Linked DNA regions of Homo sapiens. The protein of the gene in region 2 interacts with the protein of the main gene of each other region in a biochemical or structural test. Each region holds a gene or a part of one and is shown on either strand. Other genes may lie near its edges.

Region 1 (8,533 bases), on a different chromosome or scaffold from region 2:
GGCTGAGACAGGAGAATTGCTTGAACCGGGAGGTGGAGGCTGAAGTGAGCCAAGATCATGCCACTGCACTCCAACCTGGGCAACAGAGTAAGACTGTCTCAGAAACAAACAAACAAACAACAAAATATATATATATATAATATATATATATGTTTTTTTACCCATAAAGCTACTCAAGGATAGAGAAATCACTATAAAAACAACCTTTACAATATAATAAGTATTCAATAATCAGTTGCTGAATGAATGAATTATTAAGGAAAAGGAATTAAGATGAAGAGAAACAATACAAAGATAACAATTGACAATCATAATCATTTAATGCCCTTAAATTTGTAATAACTACTGAACATCTCTCCATGCTTCTATTCACTCCTACATCGACTGCACTGATTTTATATATAAACACATACATAAATAAACCATGTACTTGCTTATCTATAACAAGCCACTCCAACTGAGTGGCTTAAAACAGTAAGTCATTTATTATTATTATTACTATTGCTGTTGTAATTATTAGTGAAGACCAAGTCATGCTCTGTCACCCAGGCGAGAGTGAGCGCAGTGGTGCAATCACAGCTCACTGCAGGCCCGACCTCCTGAGCTCAAGAAATCCTCCTACCTCACTCAGCTTTTGGAGAAGCTGAGACTATAGGGGTGTGCCACTATGCCCTGCTAATTTTTAAATCATTTTTTGTAGAGAAAAGGCTCTCACTTTGTTGCCCAGGCCGGTCTTGAACTCCTGGTTTCAAGTGATTCTCCTGCCTCAGCCCCTCGAAGTGCTGAGATTATAGGCACGAGCCACCACACCAGACCCATTTATCATTATTGTCTTTCAGTCCTGAGGATTAACTGAGCTCAGCCAGGCATTCCTTACTTGGCATTTCTCTAGTGACAGTCACACACTGGTCAGGCTGGATCATTCCAATGGCTTCCTCCACCCACATGTCGGGTACCAGGCCTGAGGAAATATGTAAAGCTTGGGACTGTAACAGCTGTGATGCCTGGGGCTTTCTATCCTTATGTGGTCTCTCTACATGGTGTGTCCAGCATAGCTGTTTCAAGGTAAGAGATGCCCTCTTACCTGGCAACTCCAGACTCCAAAAGCATATGGGGAAGTGCAGGCAGGGAGGGCGGGCATATGAGCATATGCCAGGCACAAGCTGTCTACTTTTATGACCTAGCCTCAGAAATCACAAAGTATTTCTATTTATTGGAAACAATTCACTTAGGGCTGTCCCATTTTCAAAGCAGGAAGTTAGACTTCTTTTTTTTTTTTTTTTGGTTTGAGGACTGTCACAGAAGCACAGAAGTGGCAGACATGGTGTGTGTGTGTGTTTTTGGTGGGGGGGGGTGGGGCACAGAGTCTTGCTCTGTAGCCCAGGCTGGAGTGCAATGGTGCGATCTCGGCTCACTGCAACCTCCGCCTCCTGGGTTCAAGTGATTCTCCTGCCTCGGCTTCCCAAGTAGTTGGGATTACAGGTGCTCACCACCTGTAATTTTTGTATTTTTAGTTGAGATTTTTGTAGTTTTAGTTGAGATGGGGTTTCACCATGCTGGCCAGGCTGGTCTCGAACTCCCGACCTCAGGCCATCCACCCGCCTTGGCTTCCCAAAGTGCTGGGATTACAGGTGTGAGCCACCGCACTCGGCCAGCGGACATGTTTACAACAACCACTACACTCATACACATACTTATTTATGTACAGATATAAACACAAACACACACTTTTCTACATCACTTCCTTACAGACGATGTTTTTACTAAGTGAACATACCTGTGAAACCACCACTTAACCAAGAAACAGAACATTACCAGAAACCCCAAGCCTTCAAGGCCCTTCCCAGGTTTACCTTACCCACCAAAGGTAGGCGATATCCTGCCTTCTTACACTATGCAGTGGTTTTTGTCTATTTCTGAATTTCCAATAAATGGAATGATATAGGAGGTACTTTTTTCTCCAGCATCTTCTGTCCAGTACCACATGTGAGGTTCATTTGTAATATTACAAATAGTAGTAGTTTCTTAATTTTCATTACTATATAGCAGCAGTACTCAATGGGTGGTCCAAGGACCACAGAGGGTACCTGAGACCCTATCAGGAAGTCTATAAGGTCAAAGCTATTTTCATACTAATTCCGAGACATTTGCCTTTTTTACTTATTCTCTTACCACTGGACAGGAGAGATTCTGAGAGACTACTAGAAGTGTGATAACGTCACATTCTGAAATCTAACAGAATGCGTGATTATGTATTTCTGTGTGTTCTAGAAGTTTCTAGAGTAGTAGGTTTGGGGAATAAACATGTACTTTCAGAAATTAGCTGACTTTGTTACCAGTACTTCTACTGTACTCTTAAAAACTGTATTTATTTATACCTGCATTTATGTCTGTAGCCTCATTATTGTCCAAGAAATTATTGTGAAATCCCCAAGTTTTCCATGTACCTACATGGAAACAAAAGAATAAATACTTCATTTTAGAATAATATTTTATTATACAATAAAAAGAGAATATCTATTTCTTTTTCTTTTTAGACAGAGTTTCGCTCTTGTTGCCCAAGCTGGAGTGCAATCACACAATCTCAGCTCACTGCAACCCCCGCCTACTGGGTTCAAGCGATTCTCCTGCTTCAGCCTCCCAAGTAGCTGGGATTACAGGCACGTGCCACCATGCCTGGTTAATTTTTTGTATTTTTAGTAGAAACGGGGTTTCACCACTTAGCCAGGCTGGTCTTGAACTCCTGACCTCAGGTGATCCGCCCACCTCGGCCTCCCAAAGTGCTGGGATTACAGGTGTGAGCCACCACACCCAGCAGAGAATATGTATTTCTTATACTTGAAAATGGATATTGGTTTTTTGTTTTGTTTTGAGATGGAGTCTCGCTCTGTCCCCCGGGCTGGAGTGCAATGGTGCGATCTTGGCTCACTGCAACCTCCACTTCCCAGGTTCAAGCGATTCTCCTGCCTCAGCCTCCTGAATAGCTGGGATTACAGGCGTGAACCACCGCATCTGGCTAATTTTTGTATTTTTAGTAGAGATGGGGTTTCACCATGTTGGCCAGGCTGGTCTTGAACTCCTGACCTCAGGTGATCCTCCCGCCTTGGCCTCCCAAAGTGCTGGGATTACAGGCGTAAGCCACCACGCCCAGCCAGTTTTTTGTGTTTTTTTTTGTTTTGTTTTGTTTTTGTTTTTTTTGAGATGGAGTCTTGCTCTGTCACCCAGGCTGGAGTACGGTGGCGCAATCTCGGCTCACTGCGGCCTCTGACTCCCGGGTTCAAGCAATTCTCTGCCTCAGCCTCCCAAGTAGCTGGGATTACAGGCACATGCCACCACATCGGCTAATTTTTTTTGTATTTTTAGTAGAGACGGGGTTTCACCACGTTGGTCAGGCTGGTCTTGAACTCCTGGCCTCAAGTGATTTGCCCACCTCGTCCTCCCAAAGTGCTGGGATTAGAGGTGTGAGCCACCGTGCCTGGCCAGGTTTATTTTTTGAGACTACTTTTATTATTAAAAAATCTGGCCTGGAGTGGTGGCTCACATCTGTAATCCCAGCACTTTGGGAGGCTGAGATGGGAGGATTACTTGAGTCCTGGAGTTTGAGACCAGCCTGGACAACATAGTGAGACCTTGTCTCTACTAAAAAAAAATAAAAATAGAAATGTAGCTGGGTGTAGTGGTGTGTACCTGTGGTCCCAGCTACTTGGGAGGCTGAGGTGGGAAGATTGCTTGAGCCTGAGAGGTCCAGGCTGCAGTGAGCTGTGATCACTCCACTGCACTCCAGCATGGGTAACAGAGTGAGACCCTGTCTCAACAACAACAAAAAAGATCTGTTGTATAACCCTGTGCCCACACTGGACAATACTGCATTGTACACCTAAAATTCCATTAAGAGGGTAGATCTCATGTAAAGTATTTACAACACAAGAAAATTTTTTAAAGTGTTTACATATTTAATAAATACTTTTTTCTATTTCTTAGCATACAGCACCAATGTAAATAAATATTAATTATAGCATCCACAGTTAAATTTCTCAATATTTGTTTTTGAGAAACACTGAGTATTTTTTGAGAAACACTTTATTTCCCACTTTATTGAGGGAAAATTGACAATTAAAATTTATATATTTAAAGGATACAACCTGATGATTTGATATACATTTACATTGTGAAATAATCACCACAGTCAGCTAACTAACCTATTCATCACCTTACATAGTTAACTGTTTTCTTTTTTTTGTGGTAACAAAAAAACATGTACCTTCAGCACGTTTCAAATATACAATACAGTACTGCAAACTAGAGTCATAATATTCTGGAGTCTGAATGTGGATATTCAGAATCCACTCATCTTGCATAACTGAAGCTTTATTTTATTTATTTTTTTGAGATGGAGTCTAGCTCTGTTTCCCAAGCTGGAATGCAGTGGAGCGAACTCAGCTAACTGCAACCTCCACCACCCGGGTTCAAGCGATTTTCCTGACTCAGCCTCTTGAGTAGCTGGGACTACAGGCGTGAGCCACCATGCCCGGCTAATTTTTGTATTTTTAGTAGAGGCAGGGTTTCACTATGTTGGCCAGGCTGGTCTGGAACTTCTGACCTCATGATCCACCCGCCTCAGCCTCCCAAAGTGCTGGGATTACAGGCGTGAGCCACCGTGCCTGGCCAGATTTTGACTATTTTGTTGTTGTTGTTGTTGTTGTTATTGTTGTTGTTGTTATTGTTGTTGATTGAGATGGAGTTTCACTCTTGTTGCCCAGGCTGGAGTGCAATGGTGTGATCTCAGCTCACTGCAACTTCCGACTCCCAGGTTCAAGCTATTCTCCTGCCTCAGCCTCCCCAGTAGCTGGGATTACAGGCGTGTGCCACCACGCCCGGCTAATTTTTTGTATTTTTAGTAGAAACGGAGTTTCACCATGTTACCCAGGCAGGTCTCGAACTCCTGACCTCAGGTGATCCACCCTCCTCTGCCTCCCAAAGTGCTAGGATTAGAGGTATGAGCTGCCACACCTGGTCAAAATTAGACTTTAGGAAAGTTTGTGTCAGCCCCTGTGAGCTTGACAGCTTCCAAATACTTAAAGACTTACCTGATTAGATTCGTGGTGTTATTAACAAGTATGATTTTTTGGCTATTTTATAAGAAAATGTGTCAAAGTCTGGAAGATCTGCATAACTAATTGGAGCAATATTTTCCAAATAACTAATGCATCATGTTACAAAACAGGTACCACAGATAAGAGATCCATTCAAAAAACAAGACAGACTAGTGAGTTTTAATTTAATAGATTAAATTCAGAGGCAGATGTGAGATCCACGTGTCTTCTTTTAATCCAAGCATTAAAGAAACGTGCAAAAAATGAAAAACATTGCCACTTTTCACAATAACTATTTTCGTTTTGTTTTGGAAAATATAACTTATTTATGTTAACATATAGTTTATTATTTTTAAATGAATTAAATGAATATTTCATTTTTCCTAGATTTAATTTCTAAGACAGTTAATATTGAAGGATATAATCTACATATGCAAGAGCTCTTGGGGTTCTCAATAGTTTTTAAGAATATAAAGGCATCCTGAGAATAAAAAGTTTGAGACTGATAACTATATATAGCATTGCATTCTAACACAATTTATTTTCCCATATACCTAATGATGGACATTCTGGTTGCTTCCAATAGTTGACTATTATGATTAGTGCTGCTATGAACATTCCTGTACATTTCTTTTGGTGGAAATAATTACTCTTTTCTGTTAGGTATGCACATCAGAGTGAAATTGCTGCATCATAGGATATAAATTTCTTCAGCTGTAGTTGACATTATGCAACAATTTTCTAATTTAGGCCAGGTGTGGTGGTTCACGCTTGTAATCTCAGCACTTTGGGAGGCTGAGATAGGCATATCACTTGAGGTCAGTAGTTTGAGACCTGCCTGGCCAACATGGTTAAACCCTGTCTCTACTAAAAATACAAAAATTAGCTGGGTGTGGTGGTGGGTGCCTGTAATCCCAGCTACTTGGGAGGCTGAGGCAGAAGAATCGCTTGAACCCAGGAGGTGGAGGTTGCAGTGAGCTGAGATGCGCCAGTGCACTCCAGCCTGGGTGACAGAGCAAGACTCTGTCTCAAAAAAGCAAAAAATAAATAAATAAATAACATTCTAATTTAAAATTCCACTTTCAATTTACTTTCAATTCTTTTGCGTATATACCTAGAAGTAGAATTGCTTGATTATATGGCAATTCTATTTTTAATGTTTTGAGAAATTACCATACTGTTTTCCATAGTGGCTGTATGATATAGCTCGGATATGTGTCCCCTCTAAATCTCATGTGGAATTGTAATCCCCAGTGTTGGAGGTGGGGCCTAGTGGGAAGTAACTGGATTATGGGAGCGGTTTTCTCATAAATGGTTTAGCACCATTCCCTTGGTGCTATCCTCATGATGGTGAGTGAGTTCTCATGATATCTGGTCCTTGAAAGTGTGTGGGCTGGGTGTGGTGGCTCATGCCTGTAATCCCAGCACTCTGGGAGGCCGAGGTGGACAGATTATCTGAGATCAGGAGTTCAAGACCAGGTTGACCATCATGGTGAAACTGTGTCTCTACTAAAAATACAAAATTAGCTGGGTGTGGTGGCAGGCACCTGTAATCCCACCTACTCGGGAGGCTGAGGCAGGAGAATCGCTTGAAACCGAGGTGGAGGTTGCAGTGAGCTGAGATTGCACCATTGCTTTCCAGCCTGGACAACAAGAATGAAACTCCGTTTCAAAAAAAAAAAGAAAATGTGTGGCACCTCCCCACGCCCCCCACTCTCTCTCTTGCTCCTGCTTTCACCATGTAAAGTGCCTGCTCCTGCTTTGCCTTCCACCATGAATAAAAGCTCCCTGAGGCCTTCCTGGAAGCTGAGCAGGGCCATGCTTCCTATAAAGCCTGCAGAACCATGAGCCAATTAAACCTCTTTTCAAATTACCCAGTCTCAGGTATTTACAGCAATGCAAGAATGATCTAATACCTTGTACCATTTTACATTCTCACCAATAGTGCACAAAGGTTCAAATTTCTCCACATTCCTGGCAACACTTGTTATGTTTTTTTTTTAAATTAACCATCCTATTGAGTGTGAGGTGATATCTCATTGTGTGCTTTTTTGTTTGTTTGTTTTTGTTTTCGTTTTTGGTTTTGTTTTTCAGACTGAGTCTCGTTGTCACTCAGGCTGGAGTACAGTGGTGCAATCTCAGCTCACTGCAACCTTCGCCTCCCAGGTTCAAGTGATTCTTGTGCCTCAGCCTCCCAAGTACCTGGGACTACAGGTGCATGCCACCATGCCTGGCTAATTTTTGTATTTTTTGGTAGAGACGGGGTTTCGCCATGTTGGCCAGGCTGATCGCGAACTCCTAACCTCAAGTGATCCACCTGCTTCGGCCTCCCAAAGTGCTGGGATTACAGTCATGAGCCACCGTGCCCAGCCTCATTGTGGTTGTGACTAGCATTTCCTTAATGGCTAGTGATTTTGAACATCTCTTCATGTGCCTGTTGGCCCCAGCAGCACAAGAAGTATGGAGCAGATCAGAATAGCAGTGTAATGGTTCTGAAAACTAAACTGTCATTGGAACTAAAGCCTACAAAAGTAGATCAGATCTTTACTAAATCTAACAGGATAACTACTTGCTCAAATTGATTAAATAGAATCAAGACTCTCTGAAACATAATAACGAAAATATCCAAGGTACAACTGAAAATCACTTCTCATACCAAAAACCAAGAAAACCAAAATCTGAAGGAGAAAAGGCAATCAACTAATGCAAATACAAGGATGAAGCACATGTTGGAATTATCTGACAAAGACTTTAAAACATGCTTCACAAAAAGGCTTTGCCAATCAATTTTAAATTCTCTTGAAACAGTATATTTTATTATTTATTTATGTTTTTTTTTGAGACAGAGTCTCACTCTTGGCGCCCAGGCTGGAGTGCAATGGCATAATCTTGGCTCACTGCAACCTCTGCCTCCCAGGTTCAAGCAATTCTCCTGCCTCAGCTTCCTGAGTAGCTGGGATTATAGGCTGGGCCATTGTGCCCAGCTAATTTTTTGTATTTGTAGTAGAGATGGGGTTTCACCATGTTGGCCAGGCTGGTCTTGAAATCCTGACCTCAGGTAATCCACCCTCCTCAGCCTCCCAAAGTGCTGGGATTACAGGTGTGAGCCACTGCGCCCGGCCTGAGCCACCACGCCTGGCTGAAACAGTGTACTGTAAACTTAAAAACTTCTAGGAGAGTAGATGTTAAATGTTCTCCCACACACAAAAAAATAAGTTTATAAGATAACTATTGTGGAAGAACAAAAAAAGAAGCATGTCAGGTAACAGATATGTTAATTAGCTAGATTTAATCGTTTCACAACATATACATATATCAAAACATATTGTAGACCATAAATACATACAATTTGTATTTTTCAATTAAAAGTATTTAAAAAATAATCTGGCTGGGCGTGGTGGCTCACACCTGTAATCCCAGCACTTTGGGAGGCCAAGGTG
Region 2 (4,977 bases):
CAGCAGAGAAGGAAAAAAGCCACTTGGCGGTTTTAATTTTAGCTGCTCTGTGCCTGACAGGCAGGATTAGTTGGCTTGACCTTTAGTGTTGATGCCTCCCCAGGCCCAGGGCCTTAGGTGGCAGCTTCCAGGCACAAATCACCACTGGAGCTCATCAAACGTGGACGTCTGAGCCCCAGGAAAAAGCCTTCAAAGGACAGAGACTAGAAAAATGAGCAGTGAACAAGGAGGGGCAAAATTGGTTCTCAGCGATGTTAACTAGTCACCAAAGGGGAGACTGTGGAGCCACCCACACACTGAGCTCCCACCACCAAAGCCACACACAGGAGGCAGGTGGTGGGCTTCCCTAATTAACCACCCACAGTCTCACCCCCCCGGACCTGGTGCTGAACGAAAGTTAAGGCACCTTTGGTGCTGCTGCTGCTGCTGGTGGTAGAGGAAGTTTATGTGAAAAGAAAAACCGGGCGGGGCAGGCATTAAAAAGAAAATAAAGAAGCAGACCCAGAAAACCACACTGCTCTTTTATTCAATGGAACATCCCCGCTTTAGCGCAGTGTTGAATCTAACACCGAAAAAAGCCCAGAGAAATTTCTGCAGATAAACCAGTGAAGAGAACGCGCAGTATACATTATTGTCAACAGAATCACTTCATGGAGAGGGAAGCGGGAGGAAAAAGGAAGGAGAATGAACAAGGGGCTCAAACCCCTACACACTGCAAAACATTCAGACATTTGGGATTAAAACAAAACATAAAAGGAAGCCTTCCAGGAAGGAGAGGACCAAATGGAATCTGAGGCAGCTCAGGTGATCAAGGAGCACAGGAAGAACTCCAGGCTGGCAGGCGAGCCCGAGGGAGCTCAGGCTGCCCACCCACTGCTGGCAGGATCGCCAGGACGGATGGGAATCCCGAAACCTGGAGATGAACCTACCCTCGGCAACTTTACAAGACTCCCTTGACAAGGGTGGCAGAGATTAAAAAACCCCACGCTTTAAACAAACATCTTTGGGGGTGGCTATGGCACCTTGAAAAACCCACAACCAGCTTGACATGAATGGCCAAAGCCCTTGCCCAAAACCATTTGCTCCCCTCTCCTTGGTAAGGGAAGGAGAACTGGAGAGAAGGGAAAGGAATCTAAATTGCAGCAGAAGACCGGGGAGAGCATCTCCTTGGACGGAGTCTGAAGAAAGGAAAAGATAAAGAAGTAACAAAGGAAAAAGAAAAAAATTAATAAAAATTTCACGATATGGAGCCAGCGTGTTCCGATTCCGTCCACAAAAATAACTCAGGCTGCTTTGCCGAACCATCCTGTCCACCAGGGGCGTTGCTGAGGCTGTCTGCCTGGAAGGGTCACCAATGGGCGCGGAAAGTCCTCACTCTCATGGCTCGGGCCATCGCCGCCGCGGGGAGGGATCCTGGCGGCCCGGTTTGGGGAGAGGCAAAGGGAGTTGGGTGAGGAGAGAAAGAAGACAAAGAAGACACTCGATGCTACGGGGCGCCAGGAGAGCCCAAGCTGGCGCCCCTACTACCACCTGCCCGTTCCCAAGCGAATCCTCAGTCGCTTGGCCCAGCCCAGTGCGTGCACACACACACATGCGTGCACACACAATCACATGCGTGCGTCCCAATGTCTGGCTCCATATGGTGAGGTTCGGCGTGTTTAAACGAGACCAATTCTCTCTATATATAATATATATTTTCTTAAAAAACAAGTCTAGTTCTGTGGTGGAGGCGGTGGGGGAGCTGGAGGCATCCCGAAGGGCGGCATGCCCGCCACCCCCATGCCCATCATGGTGACAAAGTTAGAAGGGTCCATGGGAGGCGGAGGAGGAGGGGGCGGGGCATACATCATGCCGGCGGAACCAGGCGGTGGAGGCGGCGGAGGGGGAGGGGCCCCAGGCGGCAGAGGCGGCTGGACCCCGGGGGGCAGGGGCACCATAGTGGGGTTGCCTTGCATCTGAGGGGCTCCTGGAGAAGCTGCGGCAGCCGCCTGCTGCTGTTGCCATGGCGGGATGGACCCTGTGCCAGCGCTCGTGGTGGTAGTCGTCGTATCTGGGGTGGTAAAGAAGCCCAAGGTCACACGCGCGGGGGCACACCGCGGCTGTCTGCGGCTGCTGCCTTGGGATGGGGGCGAGGGGCGCCTGCTCCTTGCTTGGCATGCGGTACGGTGGTGGGGGGCGGGTGGGCGGGGCTGGTGATGGGGAGTGGAGGGGTGGGCAGGACTACCCTGGGGTCAGCCTCGAGGTCTCTGGGCTTAACAGAGTAAGCCCTTTGTCACCAATGCCCCTGGAAGGGCTGAGGGGAAGGTACCAGACACAAGAACAGCTCTGATGTCCCTCCGCCCAGCCGCCGCCACCACCGAACGGCACATTCAACCTCAAGGCCACAGCTGCTGTCTCCCCACTGCCCAGTCCCACCTCTGCAGTCTCTCACCCCAATCGCAGCCCTTGCCAGAGCAAGCATGCACCATCCCACTCGACCCATATGCACCAGGCTCAGTCCAGCCAGCCGCTCACTCAGCCTGCGAGGGTCTGGACTTCTGGCCCCCTACCTACAATAGCAGGCTCCCCTCCAGGCCCCCACGAACCTCTCCCCAGACACAACCACACCAAACATCAGCTCTCCTCTTCAAGATGCCCCTCCACCCCCTGGACCAGGAGGCCCTTTCTGTTTACAACCCCAGCAGAGCCCAGGGGCTCATCCCAAGACACCTGCCTGCTTGTGTGAGGCTCTATGGTTCCTGTCAGCCCCACCCCCATCCCACCCACCCCCACAAGCCCAAAATATTCTACTCACTTTGCTGCCATGGCAAGGGGGTACTGGAAGCCATACTGCTGCTGGGCGGAGGGGGTGGCGGAGGCTGCTGCTGCTGTTGTTGCCATGGGGGAAGAGGACCAGAGGGAGGGGGTGGGGGCTGCCCACTGGGAGGCGGCGGCGGCGGCGGCATCATGCCCATAGGTGGTGGCGGCATCATACCTGTGGACAGGTGGAGGCAAAGATGAGGCCTCAGGGAAAGGCGGGGACTTGGGCCAGAACCCCCACTCACCCAAGCCTAGGTGAAGACCCACAGCCAGCAGACAGCCATTACCTTTTCCTTGATGCAGGCGATAGACCCCAGAGCCCACAGGCGTACTTCCCAGGTACTGATCTTGATGGAAGGAAAGAGCAGGGACTTAGCAGGACATTGGAACTGGCCAGGGAAGCCACCCCTGTGATAACCTCAGTTGCTATCCTTACGCGAGTTCTGAAAACCATGCCTGTAAAAGGCAGGTCTGTGCTTACCCAACACAGAATCACTCCCTGAACCAGAATGGAGTCTTGCTCCTTCCAGAGCCACAACCCTGGCAAGCCAGGCAGACCCAGCACATTGCCCAGCCACTTGAGAGCTGCTTCTAGCCAACAGCGACCTGACGTAACCCCTTGCTTATCCCAAAGCCCCCAAGGTTTCTGGTCTGACACTTACTTACCCATTGGAGGAGGGCCATGGTGCCCAGGAGGGTGGGGGCCCTGGTTCATCGGTGGTGGTGGTGGCTGCATCCAAGGGGGTGGGGGTCCATTGGGGTTGTGCTGCATGGGATGTCCACCATGCCCACCTGTCAGGCTGGGTAATGGGTGTGGGAAGCTGTGGGGGCCACCTCCGGGCCCACCAGGACCACCTCCATGCATGCCGTGGTAGGGCCGACTCTCTGAAGGGCCAGAATTCATCCAGGGTGGGCGGCTCTGGGTGGTAGACATGAGAGACTACGTGAGAGCATTTCCTGCCAACGTCCCTGCCTGCGCCTCCTAGTGGCAACATTGTTCTTCGGGTTATGACACAGGACCAGAACACAAGAACAAGGTCTTCCCGAAGTGAGAAGTCCCCAAACTGGCCTGAGATCCCGGAAGAACAATGTTGCCATCCACATCCATTGTCTGCTCTACCCAAACCACGTGGCCATAGCTCCCAGTCTCTGCAGTAGAGAATGGGGAAGCCAGACCAAGAGAGCCAGCCCCCAGGCTCACCGGTGGAGGTGGGTTGTTGGCGGGAGCAGCAGGACGAGGTGCGCTGGCCAGGGGTGTGGTGGCAGGCCCAGAGGTGGAGCCCACAGATGCTGGGACAGGTGCTTCACCCAGTTCAGCCATGAGGGACAAATATTCTTTATCCATCCGTGCTTTATCCTGAGCTGACTGAGGATCACCAGGCCTGAAGTGGGGTGGGGGACACAAACAGAGAAAGGGGAAAAACTTGTTAAGAAGGAAGCTTTTATCCTGAGGAACCAACATATGGAAAGTTCTGAAGAATTCAATCACCAGATCATCACACATCTTTCTAACCCCTTACTGGGCATGGCTCTCAACAGTCTCATCAGATCTTCAGTTTCGTGCCCAGTTCTGCATCTGGGATCACCAGAGTAGAGGGGCCCCTGGGCGAAGAGCACAGGAGACCCTGAGCACCGATGAAGCACAGGTTCTCTCAAGTCAATTTCATCAAACTTCATTCCCAGTTTGAGGAAAGGAAAATCTATGCAAGACTGGCACAACTGCCAGAACGAACTTCCTAAACAAAACCTTACATATTCGCCAGCCAGTCAGAAAGTGTTGATATCGAGTGCTGACTTGCAACTGGTCAGAAATCTGTAGAGATTGCTTAGTCTTCTTGAACCAATTCTGAACAGCAAAAGCAGTGAATTTCCTATTGAGCCCCAGTAAAAACATACCCAAAATGGAAACTTCCAGTTTTCTTGGGCTCAAGACAAACAAACAGGGGTATCTGTACAGCCTATTTCTAATCATCCTGGGCTTTAAATCACACCATTACAGACCACACTAACAGAAAGGATGTTTCTCTTGGTAAGATTAACAGCAACCAATGAATGTGCCAGAAAAGTTGTCCTGCACATCGCAGGCTACCAGGAAACCGCAAGAGCCAGCCCCTCACCTTTGGAATTTACAGTCTGAAGCAATGTGGCCAGCCCCTCCACACTTGGTACACACTGTGG
Region 3 (8,533 bases), on a different chromosome or scaffold from region 2:
CACCAGTTGGAAGCTGTCAGTCCTCTGTCCTTGGGGACGTCTTACCTCTGGGGGCAGGTGGCAGGGAGAGAGGAGCATGATAAGCCGTGGAGGAGGGGAACAAAGCAGTCCCCCCAACCGAGCACTTCCATCCTCCTGCACCGCGCCCCACAGCATGCTCTATTTTAGTGGCGCCCTCTGGAGGTGTGTGACGTGATAATTGTGCCACCTCTGCCGCAGCAATGCCCTATGCCCGTGGGGACAACCCTCCTAGCCTGGTCAGGCAGTCTTCCTGAGAGCCCCCATCCCACCCTGACACTGAACATGCCTGCCCGCCCACCCATGTGCCAGCTCACCGAGCAACTTCTTGCTGTCTAGCTTCTGCCGGTTGAGGGGACTGGTCCCATAGAGCAGGGTGTGGTATTCAGAGTGCACTGTCTGGATCTCATCTAGCGTGGCTTTGCGACCTCGGATCCGCTGCCAGGAGGATCAGTAAGAGGGGTCACACAAAGGCACAGCTCTCTCAGAGCCTCTCTGCCCCATAGCCAGGGCACACAGAGCCACTTCCTGGCCTCAGGAGATCCAAATATTTTCAGAAAGTAGATCCTGGCTCTGTCATGACCTTACTCCCGGATCCCCCCCACTCAGCTGGGGACCATGGGGGAAAACAGGCTGCAAGGGATGGAACGGGGTGGTGGGAGAACTGGCCCCGAAGTCTGGGGCTGAAGAGAGGATGAGGAAGAAGCATGAAGAGAGGCTTATCTAACAGGGAAACAAAGGCTGGATTTAAGTTGAGAGCCAGAAGAAGGAGGGGCTCCCTTACCTCGCACTTGCTAAGCAGGCCTGTCTCCTGCAGCCGGGACCAGATGCTCTGGATCCGGCCAGCATGCTCAGGGTGCACGTGTGTGTTCCCGCACATGCACTGGTGCTTTAGCATGAACGTGTCGTAGACCACACCTGGGCCACAGACCTATGTGTCAGCCAGCACTGCTCTGGGCCCAGGATCCCAGCCTGGCTACCATGATCCTCAGCAGGGCTCATGGAGCTGTCTCCAACCCCCAGGTCCAAACACCTCCCCATGGCCACTGCAGCCACCCTGCCACAAACCTGCCCCCTCTCCTCTCCAGCTTTTTTTTTTTTTTCTTTGAAACAGGGTCTCACTCTGTCACCCAGGCTGGAGTGGAGTGTGTAGTGGTGCTATCATGGCTCACTGCAGCCTCAACCACTGCCCCCACCACCCTGGGCTCAAGCGATCCTCCCACCTCAGCGTTCTGAGTAGCTGGGACTATAGGCACTACCACACCTAGCTTTTCTTTTGTTTTTTTTTGAGACAGAGTCTCGCTCTGTCGGCCAGGTCCAGTGGCACGATCTCGGCTCACTGCAACCTCTGCCTCCTGGGCTCAAGCAATTCTCCTGCCTCAGCCTCCCGAGTAGCTGGGATTACAGGCATGTGCCACCACGCCTGGCTAATTTTTGTATTTTTAGTAGAGACGGGGTTTTACCATGTTGGCCAGGCTGGTCTCGAACTCCTGACCTCAGGTAATCCACCCACCTCAGCCTCCTAAAGTGCTGGGATTACAGGCGTGAGCCACTGCACCCAACCTATTTTTTTATTTTTTATTTTAAAGAGACGGGGTCTCACTATGTTGCTCACGTTGGTCTCAAACTCCTGGGCTCAAGTGATCCTCCCACCTTGGCCTCCCAAAATGCTGGGATTACAGGTGTGAGCCACTGCACCTGGCCTTTCCTCTCCAGCCTTTGCCCCCTCTTGACTCCTCCTGAAATTCCTTTGCTCCATTATTGCCTATCAGAAGCTTCCCTGCTCCTCAAGCCCCAGCAAGGCTGCCCTGGACACTCGCATGAGTCTCATCTCTGCCAGCTGTGCCTCCTCAGCTGCACCCTTCTCACGGCACCTCCTGCTTTCCCCCTCCTGCCAAACCCGTGTCTTACTCTCCACGGGTGATACAGGGCCACCCTCAGGCACGTCTGTGTCCCCCCAGAGCCCAGCCTGTGGCAGCTTCATAGGGAAGAGGACTCTGGTCTCATCCCAGACCTCACAGGGAGAAGGAAGGGAAGGTAGAAGGTCAGGGCCCAACAGGGACAGCAGGCTCTCTCTACCCAGCACTTCAGGCTGTGGGGCAGTCCTTCCTTCAGCGGGGTGAGAAAGACGCTACCCACTCTCCCGGCTGAGGCAGAAGGCCCTGCCGCTACCATGAACAGCTCTGGGGTACAGGGAGAGAACGAAGGCCTGTGTCCCCTCCTTTCAGGGTGCCTAAGGGGCCCCAGCAGCCTCTTCCCCCTGCCATGGGGCAGACACCACACACAGGCCCTCTGGTGCCTGGCAGAAGGACCTAACAGTTGGTGGGGGCTCACCTGTGGTGAAGAGGTGCTTGACGGGCTGGTCTGGGGGGCTCTTCATGCCCCCAGGGGCAGCAGGGGAGGACTGGGTACGGCCCAGGGCCTGGTGGGGCACAGTGGCCAGGCTGAGGGGCGCCTGGTACACCTGCAAAGGCTGCAGCGGCTGGGCATCTGAGAACAGCTGGAGGGGAGAATGGGAGGGGGCCTGGGTCAGACTCAGCCAGGACAGGGGTGAGGGCAGGCCCTGTCAGGGCCTCCAGTGGGGCCCCAATCCAGCCCTTTTCTTCCAAGTCTCCTTCCCCCACCTCCTCCCACTTGCTCCCTCCAGGGACAGGAGACACATCTCCTCTGAGATGGGGAGGGATGGGGGAGATGTGATGAGTCACATCAAAGAGTAGCATTGAGGTAAGAGGCTGGGAGGGGTGGGGGCGGGGGCGGGGTGGGGGCGGGATGAGTCAGGCCCGGAGGGCTCGGCTGTGTCCGCAATGAATGGAGTGCCAGCTAGGCGCGAGGCAGACAGTAGTAACAGCGGGGGCGTGTGTGTACACACACGCACAGGCACGCACAGGGACCGACGCATGCATACACAGACACACAAGCAGAGAGGCAGGCCAGTATCACAGACACAGGGAGGGAACTGGCAGCCTAGGACAGACACAACTCTGAGATCAACACAAACAGCTCCCCCTTCTCCCCACCGGCCTCCTTCCCACTCCCCTTTTGCTCTCTACAGAAAGCTGCTCCTGCACAGCCTGGAAACTGCAGATGGGGGAGAGGGAAAGACAAGGGCAGAGGCAGGGGTGGAGAAGGACAGAGGGGTGGTGACCAAGGACTGGGACCAGGGACGGGGCTCACTTTTTTGTATCCAGCACCAGGCTCCTCCAAGTCGGGCCCCTCCTCAGCACCACTCTCGCCCTCCTCGTCCTTAACCTGGATGCAATCCTCCTCCTCCTCCCCATCGTCTTCCTCGTCCTCCTCCTCCAGGTCTTCCTGTGTGCTCTCACTCTCTGTGGAGCCCTCCCGGGGCATGGTCAGGGCTCCCTCCCCCAGCAAGACCTCCTGCTGCTCCGTCAGCTCCTCCTCTGTCTCCTCAGGGTGGGTGGTGGGCTGCCTGGGCAGCTCCCCTGTCTTGGTGAGGATCTGATAACAGAATATGGGGGCACATCAGCTGGGAGTTGGGGAGCAGCTGTGCAGCCTAAAACCCAGAACAGTCTATCCTTCCCTCCCTCCCTTCTTCCAGGTAGAGCTTCTATGTGAATTAGAAAAAGGTGAGGTAGCTCCTCTGAGAGGACTTTTTTTTTTTTTGAGACAGAGTCTCCCTCTGTCGCCCAGCCTGGCATGCAGTGGCACGATCTCGGCTCACTGCAACCTCCGCCTTCCAAATTCAAGCGATTCTCCTGCCTCAGCCTCCCCAGTGACTGGGGTTACAGGCGCACGCCACCACGCCCAGCTAATTTTTGTTTGTTTTTTTGAGACGGTCTCGCTCTTCTCACCCAGGCTGCAGTGCAATGGTGCGATCTGGGCTCAGTGCAACCTCCATCTCCCAGGTTCAAGCAATTCTCCTGCCTCAGCCTCCCGAGTAGCTGGGATTATTATAGGTGCCTACCACCACGCCTGGCTAATTTTTGTATTTTTAGTAGAGACGGGGGTTTCACCATGTTGGCCAGGCTGGTCTCGAACTCCTGACCTCAGGCGATCTGCCCACCTCGGCCTCCCAATCAGGCGCGAGCCACCGTGTCTGGCCTGAAAGGAGGACTTTTCTGCCAGCCTGGTACTCTCCTGTGTCCTGCCCCCACCACAGCCCCAGGCCATTCACCTTTCCAGGCTCACCTTGCCCAGCTGTAGCTGCTGCTGCTTCTGCTTCTCCAGGAACTGCTGGTGCTGTTGTTGCATGACCAGCTGCTGCAGGGCCTGGGGACTCTGCGGCAGCGGTGAGGACTGAGTGCGGCTCAGGGGCCGATGCCGCGGGAGCTTGCCTACCGTCCGCATGCTGGTGGCCACACGTTCACCCGTCACTAGTGGGGACTGCCCGTGGAGTGGCACTACGGAGTTGGGGGTGATGACTAAGCACCATTGTCAGGGCACCTGACTGCCCTCCCACCGACCCTGCATCTTGCCCCCACAACCCCCTCTGGCATATCACCACCTATATACTCAGGAAAAACCCTGGGGGACCTGAAGCACCCCCCACCCAAACCTGAGCTCCATTCTTCCTCTTCCCCATGAATGAAGAGTTTCACAGCTCTAAGGTACCACCTCCAGCAAGCCTTCCTGGATTCACCATCTTTTCCCTTCGATTTCCTTAACTGAATAAACTGAGTATACATTTAGTCTTGAGCCCTCTGAACGAACAATGACTTTTCTCCCTAAGTGCAACAAGGCCTCCCTGATCATGGATCCTCCCCGTGGATCCCGCCAGGCTAGGAAGCCCTAGGGCCAGGATCATGTATCTTTCAAGCAGAACCTCTTCTGGTGCCAGGGCTCTTTAGACAGCCCTGGTACTTAAGGGCTGTCTAAAGTTGTGCTGTCTAGTCCCATAGCTACTAGTTACATGTGACTGCTGAGCCCTTGCACACAACCTGTCTAAACTGAAATGTGATATAAGTGTGAAGTATACACTAGATTTCAAAGAGTATGAAACAAAAACCAAAATATCTCATTGGTAACTGCATATTGGCCAGGCACAGTGGCTCACACCTGTAATCCCAGCACTTTGGGAGTCCAAGGCAGGGGGATGGCTTGAGCCCAGGAGTTCAAGACCAACCTGGGCAGCTGGGTGCGGTGGCTCACACCCGTAATCCCAGCGCTTTGGGAGGCCAAGGCAGGTGGATCACTTGAGGTCAGGAGTTCAAGACCAACTTGGCCAACATGGTGAAACCCCGTCTCTACTAAAAATACAAAAATTAGGCCAGGCGCAGTGGCTCACGCCTGTAATTCCAACACTTTGGGAGGCCAAGGCGGGTGGACCATCTGAGGTCAGGAGTTCAAGACCAGCCTGGCCAACGTGGTGAAACTTCTTCTCTAATAAAAATACAAAAAATTAAGCCAGGCATGGTGGCACATGCCTGTAATCCCAGCTACTTGGGAGGCTTAGGCAGGAGAATCACTTGAACTCGAGAGGCAGAGGTTGCAGTGAGCCGAGATCTTGCCACTGCACTCCAGCCTGGGCAACAAGAGTGAAACTTCGTCTCAAAAAAAAAAAAAAAAAAAAAAAAAAATTAGCTGGGTGTGGTGGCACACGCCTGTAGTCTTAACTACTCAGGAGGCTGAAGCAAAAGAACCGCTTGAAGCTTGAACCCAGGAGGTGGAGGGTGCAGTGAGCAGAGATCCTGCTTACTGCACTCCAGCCTGGGCAACAAAGTGAGATTCTGTCTCAAAAAAAAAAAAAAAAAAAGGATGAGCATGGCGGCTCACACCTGTAATCCCAGCACTTTGGGAGGCCGAGGCGAACGGATCACCTGAGGTCAGGAGTTCAAGACCAGCCTGGCCAAGATGGTGAAACCCCAGCTCTATTAAAAATACAAAAATTAGCCAGGCGCGGTGGCAGGCGCCTATAATCCCAACTACTTGGGAGGCTGAGGCAGGAGAATTGCTTGAACCCGGGAGGCAGAGGTTGCAGTGAGCCAAGATCACGCCACTGCACTCTAGCTTGGGCAACAGAGCGAGACTCAGTCTCGAAAAAAAGACCAGCCTGGGTAACATAGCAAGATCCTGTCTCTACAAAAATTAAAAAATAGAAAGAATAACTGCATATGTATTACCGAAATTGTAATATTCTGGATATAATGAGTTAAATATATGTGGTGAAATTAATTCCACTTGCTTCTCTTTTTTTTGAGACAGAGTGTCGCTCTGTTGCCCAGGCTTGGGTGCAATGGAGCGATCTCGGCTCACTGCAACCTCCGCCTCCTGGGTTCAAGCAATTTTCCTGCCTCAGCCTCCCGAGTAGCTGGGATTACAGGTGCCCGCCACCACGCCCAGCTAATTTTTGTATTTTTAGTAGAGATGGGATTTCACCATGTTGGCCAGGCTGGTCTCAAGCTCCTGACCTCAAGTGATCCACCTGCCTTGGCCTCCAAAGTGCCGGGCTCACAGGCTTGAGCCACCATGTGTGGCTCCACTTGCTTCTTTTAATTTTTTTATTTTTTTGAGACGGAGTCTCACGCTCTGTGCCCCAGGCTGGAGTGCAGTGGCACGATCTCGGCTCACTGCAAGCTCCGCCTCCCAGGTTCACACTGTTCTCCTGCCTCAGCCTCCTGAGTAGCTGGGACTACAGGTGCCCACCACCACGCCCGGCTAATTTTTTGTATTTTTAGTAGAGACGGGGTTTCACCATGTTAGCCAGAATGGTCTCAATCTCCTGACCTCGTGATCCACCCGCCTCAGCCTCCCAAAGTGCTGGGATTTCAGGCGTGATCCACCGCGCCCGGCCTTCTTTTTACATTTTTTAATGTGGATGCTAGAAATTACGTATGTAGATTGTGTTATGTTTCTACTGAACAACACTGCTCTGGGATGTGAACGCCAAGATGGCAGCAGATTTTGTCAAGAACAGTGCCTGGCATCCTGTAGGTATCCCATGTTTCCAGAATGTGGAAGAAATCACTGATGCTGTTGATTCTGCTAAGGGGAACTGTGACAGGGTTGGAGAGTATCCCTGACAGTTGGTCCTGACCTTAGCCCCCTCCCTTGCACAGCTACCTGTCCACTCACCAGCAATGAGGGTGCTCTGCTGCCGGGCCTGCTCCAGCAACAGCACATGCTGCAGCAGGGAGGCATGCCCGTGGGGGCTCCCGTCGCCCTCCAGTGCCACGCCCAGCAGGCAGCCAGGAATAGAGGATGTGCTCATGAACTTGCCGGTCAGCGTGCCACCCTGCCGCAGGGACTGGAGGGCCTGCCTCTCGGCCTCCTGCTGTGTCGACAGCTTCGGGGAGGCCTGGGGGGTGAAGGGAGGGGCTTATACAGCCTCAGTCCTGCCAACTTTGGACTAGCATCCCCATCTACCCACTATCTACCCCCCAAGCTCTGGGTAGGGCCAACAGATCTCCCTTAGGGCCTTGGAAGGGGAAAACCCCAGCTGGGGGCATGCAGGACCTGTGACCTCAACACCAGAGGGAAGATGGGGTATATGCCCTGTACTTACAGTGAGGTGTGAGTTGGTGACAGTGACCGTGGCCTGCAGCCCTAGGGAGATGTTGGGCAGAGAAGGAGACGTGTAGAGGCTGAACTGGTTGGGGGAGCTGTCCAGAGGGAGGGCTCGGTGCTGAGGGAGCATCTGGGGAGCAGTCAGAAGAGACAGGCATGAGAGTGCACAAAGGGGAGGCAACAAGGGAGGGCAACCTGGGGCCAAGGCCAAGGTCTCTGAATGGTGCCCAGTTCCCTCTACCCTGAGCTCCCACTGAGGGAGACTGAGCCATCAGGGCTCTTCATAGTCCTGTGGGACAAATTCCCCTTCAATGCAATTAAGTCCAAGCAAGGATCCTCCAGCCTATTCATGTGGGCAGAGAGGTCTCTGCTGGGCACTCAGGCAGACAGACTGGAAGGAGCTGCACTCTTTCTTCCATGGGAAGGAGCAACTCTGTCCCCGCCCCACCAGCCCCCAGCCAGGCCTGTACCTCAGTGGGGATGTTGGGGACTGAGCCAGTAAAGCCATTCTCAGCGATGGTGCTGTGGGAGCTGTTGGGAGAGCTGGGGCCGGAGCCGGGTGCGCTGTTACACACGGACGACGCTATAGGAGAAGTGGCTGTCACCTGGGCCTGCTGTGAACTACCCCCGACCCCTGATTCCCAGACCCTCAGAACAGGTACATGAGAGCAGCCCTTACCCCCAGGCCCGGCACCTGTGATCTCAACAGCTCTCTTCTTAAAGGTGCTAATAACAGTCCCATCCTTGCGACGCAGGAGGGGACTGCTTCTCCGCTCAGCCACCTTCTGTTTTAGCCTTGAACGCACTTTCAAGTTGGGTTCAGAGGCTGGAGAGAAGGTAACCGAGGTTCAGATACGCGCACAGCAGCACACATCTGCAGCTGAGCCCACTGGGGTCAGGGCTGACACTGCCACAAGCCCACCTCTGCCTCCCAGGAGCCATATTCTGGGAGGCCAGGTGGGGGACTCACTCACCTGTTTTGCGGAGGGGGAAGTCGTCTCGACTGTCGTAGGGCCCAGGCAAAGGCAGTTTGTAGGAGGGAGGCGTCCCA

What was found. The genes of interacting proteins can lie anywhere in the genome.
Region 1: the proteins of SF1 (region 2) and ZNF461 form a complex in vitro, tested with the Homo sapiens proteins (one study listed by BioGRID).
Region 3: the proteins of SF1 (region 2) and HDAC5 form a complex in vitro, tested with the Homo sapiens proteins (one study listed by BioGRID).

The regions. Positions count from the first base shown.
Region 1 is NC_000019.10:36,641,416-36,649,948, forward strand, and holds part of ZNF461 (zinc finger protein 461), read right to left. Parts: intron 2,448-8,533; coding exon 2,379-2,447; intron 2,360-2,378; exon of another isoform or gene 2,173-2,359; intron 2,152-2,172; exon of another isoform or gene 1,778-2,151; intron 1-1,777. UniProt on the Homo sapiens protein: May be involved in transcriptional regulation.
Region 2 is NC_000011.10:64,764,106-64,769,082, forward strand, and holds the end of SF1 (splicing factor 1), read right to left. Parts: coding exon 4,917-4,977; intron 4,182-4,916; coding exon 4,001-4,181; intron 3,740-4,000; coding exon 3,466-3,739; coding exon of another isoform or gene 3,462-3,465; intron 3,147-3,461; coding exon 3,087-3,146; intron 2,975-3,086; coding exon 2,795-2,974; intron 2,051-2,794; coding exon 1,713-2,050; 3' UTR 1,414-1,712; coding exon of another isoform or gene 1,284-1,413; 3' UTR 501-1,283; downstream 1-500. UniProt on the Homo sapiens protein: Necessary for the ATP-dependent first step of spliceosome assembly. Binds to the intron branch point sequence (BPS) 5'-UACUAAC-3' of the pre-mRNA. May act as transcription repressor.
Region 3 is NC_000017.11:44,084,220-44,092,752, forward strand, and holds part of HDAC5 (histone deacetylase 5), read right to left. Parts: coding exon 8,457-8,533; intron 8,309-8,456; coding exon 8,162-8,308; intron 8,066-8,161; coding exon 7,953-8,065; intron 7,613-7,952; coding exon 7,481-7,612; intron 7,274-7,480; coding exon 7,051-7,273; intron 4,380-7,050; coding exon 4,168-4,379; intron 3,478-4,167; coding exon 3,193-3,477; intron 2,519-3,192; coding exon 2,353-2,518; intron 937-2,352; coding exon 803-936; intron 457-802; coding exon 336-456; intron 1-335. UniProt on the Homo sapiens protein: Responsible for the deacetylation of lysine residues on the N-terminal part of the core histones (H2A, H2B, H3 and H4).